Regions from separate parts of the Homo sapiens genome. Here region 1 is linked to region 2. The links come from fine-mapping of genetic effects on gene expression. A gene starts in region 2. The other region holds a variant in brackets. All regions are shown on one strand. Distances are between the middles of the regions.

Region 1 (4,399 bases), 140 kb before region 2:
TCAAGTCCCAGTACTTTTCATAAATCACCAGAAGTGAAGCCAGCAAAAGACTAATTTCAAAGAACATTTCATTATTTCTAATCCTAGGCAGATTCAAACTAAAAAGACTTTTCCCAAAGAAAAAAAAAAAGAAACATATAAATTTGAATAATTGTTTTTCAAAATACCAAAGAAATTGTGTGCTTCAATAAGTGATACATCAAATGACAAGCCTTACCTGAATTCATTGAGGGCCTGACTGATACTCATGCTTCAAAGCATTTTCAAAATGCTTGTTTTTCAAAGCTTATGGTTTTCACTTGGAGGCCCATATTTCAACTTTAATTGATTCCCTACAGAACTGGACCCTTATGTTAGTTACAGTGTCTGTAACTCACTTGAAAACACTTCAGCATAGACAGTGCGTTAGGAGGAGTGTGTTAGATTAAGCTGCAACCCAGGAGCAGCTGGCATTCAAATCAGTCATGCACAGTCGGCTGAGGAACAGGTAGATTCTAGTCAAGAAAGCCCAGTCCAAAAATTTGAGGATTAAAATAAATAGTGATAGTAACAGATTATAACTCATACAGTAAAATAAGAACCATGAATGCATACTCATAAATGACTAAAGAAATAAAAATGTTAATGAGGAGAAGAGATAGGGCTATCAGTTCTTCATATCACTCTTGTGGTGTTAGGAGGCTTTTATTTTGCCTAAAATTAATTTATTCACTCAGCAATTGTTTTATGTCTACAAGAACACAATTTTATTTATTTTATTTTTCTAATTGACAAATAATAATTGTGAATACTCATGGGGTACAAAGTGATGTTTGGATACATATAATTTACGGTGATCAGATCAGGGTAATAAGCATATCTATCATCTCAAACGTTTATCATTACTTTGTGTTGGAAAAGTTCAATATTCTCCTTCTAGCTATTTGAAACTGTATAATAAACTATAGTCATCCTACAGAGGTACAAAACACGAGAAGGCATTTCTCCTATCTAGCTGTAATTTTGTATCCTTTAACAAATCTCTTTCTATTCCCCCCTTAGATTTCCCCTTCCCAGCCTTTACGGTATCCTCGGTTCTACTTTTCAGTTCTATGAGATTGACATTTTTTAGCTTTCATGTGTGTGACAACATGCAGTGCTTACTTTTCTGTTCCTGGCTATTTAACTTAACATAATATTTAACAAATATTTATTGGGAACTTAGTATATGTCAGAGGCTGTTCTAGGCAGGTAAGATAAAACTATTACAAATAAGAAGACACACACAGAGCCCTCATAGATAGTTATATTCTTTCTCACTTATGAAAATTATTTCATAGAATAAACTTTGTGTGAATGTAAGTTAGGTTTTTGTATAGTAAACTAAAATTTCTCAGGGCTTTAAAAATAATTATCATCTCCCATCCTGTTTCTTTGGAATTACACACCAATAAGAACAAGATAATATAAAGGAAGAAGGAAGTGGAGAAGAAAGATTAGTGCTGTTGAGTCTCAAATATTCAGAAACCTAGAGACTACACAATTAATTAAACTAATTGGGAAATTTCACAAGAGTAAAAATTGTTTAATAACAATAATAGTAGTGTTAATAATAATAGTCTAAAATGGAAAGTAGGGTTAGAATTGAATATCGCCTCAATTGGCAATTTCTGGAACTGGATAATTAGGACATCCTCAGGATCAAAAATACTCTAAAATTGCTTTTATCTTAGGGATATACAGTGAAGGTGACCTCAGGCTGGGATATTCACCTGACTGCTGAGAAGCTTGGAACATTTCATTGCAAACATGCCAGCCCACTAAAGCAGCAAGCT[G/A]TTTCCGCTTCTCCCAACAAATTCAGAATGGAAATGAAATTCCAATTATGCAGCAAATACAGGTAGTATAATTAAAATTTCTATTTCATTACTTCACATCCTTTAACTCTTTTAGGATGCATTGCTTAAACTATGAACCTGTAGATTGCCATCTGATAACTCTATAAAAAGCAAAATGTTGACTGATTTGAGTTTGCATTTTTCATTTAAATATACCATTATTAGAAACAAATGTGCTTTTTTTTTAAGATGGCCAACTACAAACATTACGGTCATAATTGTTGCAGGCAAGAAGTTGCAAAAATTGGGCAAAAGTTTGAGGAGAAACATTGCATACCCACATTGTATCACTCTGAAGATACTTAACCAATTACAAGGGCAAAAATAGTGGGAAAGCCAGCAGACACTGCCTTAGCCAAATGATCCAGGTTAACATCACCAGTAAAAAAGATATATCATCATAAATACCTGTGATATGATGCAGGGGCATAGATGGACAATAACATCACTTCTGTGGTATTCTTCCCAAAAATGTACAGCCTCAACCTTAGGAGAAAACTAAAGGCAAATTCAAATTGAGAGATATTCTAAAAAGTAACCATTAGTCCTTATCAAAAATGTCAAGGTCATGAAAGAGAAGAAGAAACTGAGGAACTATCACAAATTGGTAGAGACTATGGCAACAATTAAATGTAATGTGGAACTCTGGATTGGATCCTAGCACAGAAAAAGTATATTAGGAGCCAAAATAGTGAAATTTGAATATGGGGTGTAGCTTTGTTAATGGTATTGTAATAATGTGAATGATAATTGTTTCATGGTTTATAAATTGTAAAAAGAAGAAACTGAGGGAAGAGAATATGTGAACTCTGTAATATTTTCACAACTCTTCTGTAAGTCTAAAACTATTTCAAAAGAAAAAGAAAAAAGACAGGTATTGGATTACATTTTAGAAAATATAATCCAAAGCAAGTTGTTGATTCAACATTAAAACATCTTGTAGTATTACTCCTTCTAGAGTAAAAATGAACAAGTGACTTTTTCTCCCTTGCATTTCTTCTAGATTGAGGCCTGACCTGTCTAAATTTTCATTCAGTCACGTTTGCTATGACTGAACTACAGAACCAAAATACTGCTTTACAATGGAGAACACACCTTTAACTAAGGTGTGATTTTTTGTTACTGTAATCTTTTTATGTAATTATCAAAGCAAGCTGCACCAAACAAGCCAGAGATTAATATGCTGGGATGTCCATTTAGCTCTTTCTAGATAGGCTTCAATTTGGCTAAAATTTAGAATTATTATTTTTCTTCTGAGCACATCACATAGATGTCAAAAAGTTCTCTCCAAAACTTCTTATGCTGTCAGCTTTAATAGAGTCTGCTTACACAGATGAAAAATAAAAATTTCCTCCTTAAAAAATAACAACACAGAGATTCTTTCCACTGAAAACTTGCAACTGAAAATTATTTGAACTCTAAATAACTATAGACATTTAGATATTATTTCTTGAGGGCAGAACATCTTTTTGAGTTAGAGGTTATAATGAGAAATCTTGAACACTGGTGGAGTGATACCAACTCCAAATAAACTGCAACTTGCTTGCCTTTTCTTCAGTAGCAAATATTTAGCTCTTTGTTGCATTTTTTTCTATACATAGTCAGTACCAAAACTTTTGAAAGATAATTTATGTCACCCAGTAGGACCGAAACATGAAAAATAACATAGGCAGTATCTGGCTCATGGATCCTGACAATTATGGTCTATTCAATTTCACTAATCTTACTTCATTTACTCATATCACAAGTTGAAGACTATAAAATTTCCACTTCGTCACTGTTGTAATAATCTATGTTAATGGAAATAATTAAGTACCTCAATTTAAATCTAATTTCTCAATGATACATATTTTGAGATCTAGCAGTGGTTAAGTAACTCTGTAATTAAATTATAAGTTATTGTTTCATCAGAAACCGTCAACTTCACAATTATCTTAAAGCTAAATAAAATTACTGTGTACATAAATTGTGCAAGGTGCTATGCAAATTTTCTTCTCACAATAACAAGAAATGAGCTGACATCCTCTTTCTTTCCTGTTGGCTTCCCATTTCCTCTCTTCTGTAATCCATATGATATGTTTACACTGTTTTTCCTGTCCATCATTTAAATGATTTGCAAGAGAGTACTCCATATTCTTCAGTTTTAGCAACTAGATTGCATATTTGCTCTCCTTTTTTTGTTCTACCATAATTTAAGTGACTGTTCACATGGATAACCTTTCCAACAGCAGAGCCCTTAAGTTTCAAAACATCTTAACTCTAATGCCCATCCTCTCCACTTCGGCCCACATATGCAGCAGCACCCTGAAGCACACCATCGCCTCTCACTGATCAACCTTCAAGATCTGATCACAGCATCAGTTTCTTCCAAATCTCCCAATGTGTGAATCCTTCAAATACTGATCTTTACTGCACAATGTAAACCCTTAATCTGGTCCTATTCCCCAAGCTTCTCTTCTGGCCTCATTTACTTCCTTAACCAGACTAACCATGGTCAATCTTTAAGCTGTGATCTCGAATAAGCA
Region 2 (4,399 bases):
TAAGGTTGATATAGATGGAAAAGAAATAAACTGTATATAGCACTATATAAACAAACATACCCAGTCAGTCCTCTGTATTCGCAGGGTCTACATTATGGGACTCAACCAACTATACACTGGAAACATTCAAGGAAAGAAGAAAAAAAAATAACAATACAACAATAAAAATAATACAGTCCAACAACTATTTTCATAGCATTTACATTGTATTAGGTATCATAAGTAATATAGAGATGTTTTAAAGCATAGAAGATACATTAATATGTAGGTTTTATACACATAGTGCACCATTTTACATAAGGGACTTGAACATCCATGAATTTTGGTATCCCTCAGGGTTCTGAAACTAATCCCTGATAGATGCGACTGTATATGTGTGTATGTATCAGTATATAGAATACTATGGTTAGCACATGGTAAGTATTCCATACATTTTGATTGTTTTTTATTATTATTGCTTGGAACCTCAACTGAAAATGTGTCTCCTTCTTGCACAGAACATGGATACTTCTTGTGCTATGTCACAAGAAGTCACTATCTCCCCAAATAAAAGGCTAGATTGACCAGAATGTTTGCATCTTTCCCATTCAAGCACCTGGCTAGGCCCATTAAGCCTAGGGCCCTACCTCTCAATGCTTTTCAATCCCCTGACACTCAGTACTCTCATTACATATTTGGTGACTTAATTTACAGAATTGCTAAACTCACATTTCTGAACATGGCTTCTAAAACTGACTATCTCTCCCCAGCTTAGCCAGAAGGGCTGCAAGGAAGAACAGAGACCAGAAGGCCTACAGCAGCTAGCAAGGTTAACTTCATGGAGCACCATCGTGCCTTTCAAAGTTCCCATTTCACAAAGTTTTGCCTGGGAACTCAGCAGGAACTTTAGCAACAGGAGAGAATTAGAAATAAATGGCTAAATGAAACCTAGATTTATGTTTCAGTCAATTGAGAGAATCTGACATGTTATGTGCCAGCCCACAGTAGGTATTCAGTAAGTAACTGTTGAATAAATTTGGTGGTAGAAAAAAATATCTCAGTGGCTCTTGGCATTCATTGCCTCTTCTATAGAGACTATACTATACATCCCTCTGCTGCCTTTGAGCAGGACTTTAAAACTCTATGACTCTAGTAAAATCAAGAGTATTTTCACAACCAAGATAAGTTTTTACAATGGTTTTCCTCCACATGGTAAAAAAGAAAGAAGGAAAAAAAATGATGAAGCTCCCTGAATTACTGGATGGGAAACACTGGCTTCTTTAATGCAGGAATGCAGACTGGCTTCGGGGTTCTTGAAGGAGAAATGCATAACTCTTCCTCTCCAGGCTTTTGGCTGGAGACACCCTGTGGGTAAGTTAGGGGAGAGGTAAGAGGGAGCGGGCAATTCCAGTATTTTCACATAGGGAAAGGGTAACGAAGAATCAGGCTGTAAAAGCCAGCTATTGGGAGAGGAAATAAAACTTAAAAATTTGTCATCGTTACTGAAAAAAAAAAAAAAAAAGGTAGGGACAAAAGGAATAGGAAAATGATGGGGGTGGGGGGACTAGTAAAGGAAAACCTGCAAAGGAAGTTGGAAAGAGGAAAGAGTGTCATACGCATTTTGTTTTTATTCCTGCTCCTTCTCTCTCACTCCCTCCAGAAGCTAGAAAAAGTTTGCAAGCGCAACTTTAGGGATGGGAGACGGGGCTCTTCACCAACAGCCCCACGAAAAGAAGTGCCCGCTTTACCCTTCCCCATTCGCGCCGCCGTCCTTTCCCTCTAGCGGGGTGATGGGCAGGAGGCGACACTCTTGGGACGCGGTAGCCCAGGCGGATCCCCCGGAATCCCGCTGGGCTGGAGCAGCACGCAGCTCTCTCTCTGGCAAAGCCTCCTCTGCCTTGGCCATCCACCTCCCGGAAAAGAAAAAGGAAAGATCGAGCCTCTAAACAGTCCTTTTCCCCCACCCCCTCTTCCCGGGGGAGCTCAGGAAGAAAGTACCGTTCTGTGATTCACTGGAGAGAAAAGAGGGAGGAGGCAAAAGAACTCGGAGTGCCAAAGCTAAATAAGTTAGCTGAGAAAACGCACGCAGTTTGCAGCGCCTGCGCCGGGTGCGCCAACTACGCAAAGACCAAGCGGGCTCCGCGCGGACCGGCCGCGGGGCTAGGGACCCGGCTTTGGCCTTCAGGCTCCCTAGCAGCGGGGAAAAGGAATTGCTGCCCGGAGTTTCTGCGGAGGTGGAGGGAGATCAGGAAACGGCTTCTTCCTCACTTCGCCGCCTGGTGAGTGTCGGGGAGATTGGCAAACGCCTAGGAAAGGACTGGGGAAAATAGCCCTGGGAAAGTGGAGAAGGTGATCAGGAGGCCGGTCCACTACGGCAGTTTATCTGTCTGATCAGAGCCAGACGCGACGCGTCCACTTCGCAGTTCTTTCCAGGTGTGGGGACCGCAGGACAGACGGCCGATCCCGCCGCCCTCCGTACCAGCACTCCCAGGAGAGTCAGCCTCGCTCCCCAACGTCGAGGGCGCTCTGGCCACGAAAAGTTCCTGTCCACTGTGATTCTCAATTCCTTGCTTGGTTTTTTTCTCCAGAGAACTTTTGGGTGGAGATATTAACTTTTTTCTTTTTTTTTTCCTTGGTGGAAGCTGCTCTAGGGAGGGGGGAGGAGGAGGAGAAAGTGAAATGTGCTGGAGAAGAGCGAGCCCTCCTTGTTCTTCCGGAGTCCCATCCATTAAGCCATCACTTCTGGAAGATTAAAGTTGTCGGACATGGTGACAGCTGAGAGGAGAGGAGGATTTCTTGCCAGGTGGAGAGTCTTCACCGTCTGTTGGGTGCATGTGTGCGCCCGCAGCGGCGCGGGGCGCGTGGTTCTCCGCGTGGAGTCTCACCTGGGACCTGAGTGAATGGCTCCCAGGGGCTGTGCGGGGCATCCGCCTCCGCCTTCTCCACAGGCCTGTGTCTGTCCTGGAAAGATGCTAGCAATGGGGGCGCTGGCAGGATTCTGGATCCTCTGCCTCCTCACTTATGGTTACCTGTCCTGGGGCCAGGCCTTAGAAGAGGAGGAAGAAGGGGCCTTACTAGCTCAAGCTGGAGAGAAACTAGAGCCCAGCACAACTTCCACCTCCCAGCCCCATCTCATTTTCATCCTAGCGGATGATCAGGGATTTAGAGATGTGGGTTACCACGGATCTGAGATTAAAACACCTACTCTTGACAAGCTCGCTGCCGAAGGAGTTAAACTGGAGAACTACTATGTCCAGCCTATTTGCACACCATCCAGGAGTCAGTTTATTACTGGAAAGTAAGTGTTCCTACTTCTTATATTTATTCCTTGGAGAAATCTTAAGCATTTAATGAAGATCCAGCTCCAAATTTAAGGGAGTAACAGAAAGTATGGGGAACAACTGAATGAATGAAGAATGAATGAATGATGTATGGTATTGGGGTACCGTGTTAAAATGGATACAATGTTAATGATCTTAATTTTCTAGTCACTAGTGTAGTCTAGTTTTCCTTTTTACAGAGCCAATTATAAGTTTCTAAATGAGATGAGAACGTATAAATACCCACAAACCAGAGATTTCCAGAAATGGTCTCCTGTTTCAAATCTATTCTACTTTTGAGCATGCTCAGATTTTGTTTCAGATGTCATACTAGAATTCACACTCACCATCACTGATAAGAAAGATCAAAAATTTTTTTTACTCTTGGTGCATTCTTAAATCTAGAATTATCAGAGAAAATGAACCAACGAAACAGATATAGAGTAATGTAAAATATGACCAGTTTATGTATGACTCTGCTTCGGTCTTTGATGGGTCATTTTCTCTTATGAGACCCCCTAATGAAGGCCATATTTAATTAGCAAAGCAGTTCTCAAAATGCAAGGAAATACAATGGTAAGTGCTCAAGAGGAGTCAAACTTCATCTGCAGTTTTCTGTTGCTCTTCACAGGTCTGGAATTTTCTGACTAACCAACAGAAATCAGACTATTTGGATGCTTAAGTAAAGTGCTTTTCATATTGTTGCTGCTTTGCTAAGTAGCTAAATCTTCTACTTAAATTGTTCAAACATTTTCATATTTTTACTCTATCCTATCAGAACACAGGCTACTGTAATTGATTTGGATGTACAAATTCAGCCTGTGGAACGAAGATAAACTAGGAAGGGCAGGGGTTAAGCTGGACAGAGGTAGAAGAAAATCCTTAGCCATTTCAATCTATGTCTTGTGATTTCAGTTGCAGGACAGGGAACCCTTGCTTCTGTGAAGTTGTTCTTGGAATTGGATCCTATAAAAGTAGCCAGTATCCATTGGAAAAATAAAGACTATTTTGTAAGAATCTCTGTCTCGCAGAGACTTTTGCTTACAGCATGATTTCCACTGCTTAGCAAACTGTCAGAACTTAGCATCATTGCCAGAAAA

Which allele goes with the higher level. Positions count from the first base shown, and alleles are read on the strand shown. Sizes are in standard deviations (SD) of each study's normalised expression.
For the expression in cerebellar hemisphere of the gene that starts at base 2,067 in region 2, allele A in region 1 goes with a lower level than allele G (large effect, 0.89 SD a copy in GTEx).

What was found. PIP is the estimated chance that this variant, and not a neighbour inherited with it, causes the effect.
Region 1: its variant is the best candidate, but not a certain one, in a credible set for the expression of ARSJ in cerebellar hemisphere (GTEx, PIP 0.88).

Annotation. Positions count from the first base shown.
Region 1 is chr4:114,113,096-114,117,494 of GRCh38, reverse strand. No RefSeq gene overlaps it. Among named protein-coding and RNA genes, the nearest start is that of ARSJ, 140 kb to the right of the region's middle. The variant G/A (reference allele first, on the strand shown) is at 1,815.
Region 2 is chr4:113,977,315-113,981,713 of GRCh38, reverse strand. It overlaps ARSJ (arylsulfatase family member J), which reads left to right and starts at 2,067. Exons shown (of 2, transcript NM_024590.4): 1 at 2,067-3,277. The coding sequence starts at 2,880. LOC107986305 (a long non-coding RNA gene) reads right to left here and starts at 1,901. Exons shown (of 2, transcript XR_001741794.2): 1 at 1,728-1,901; 2 at 186-1,344. LOC124900762 (a long non-coding RNA gene) reads left to right here. Exons shown (of 3, transcript XR_007058237.1): 3 at 750-819.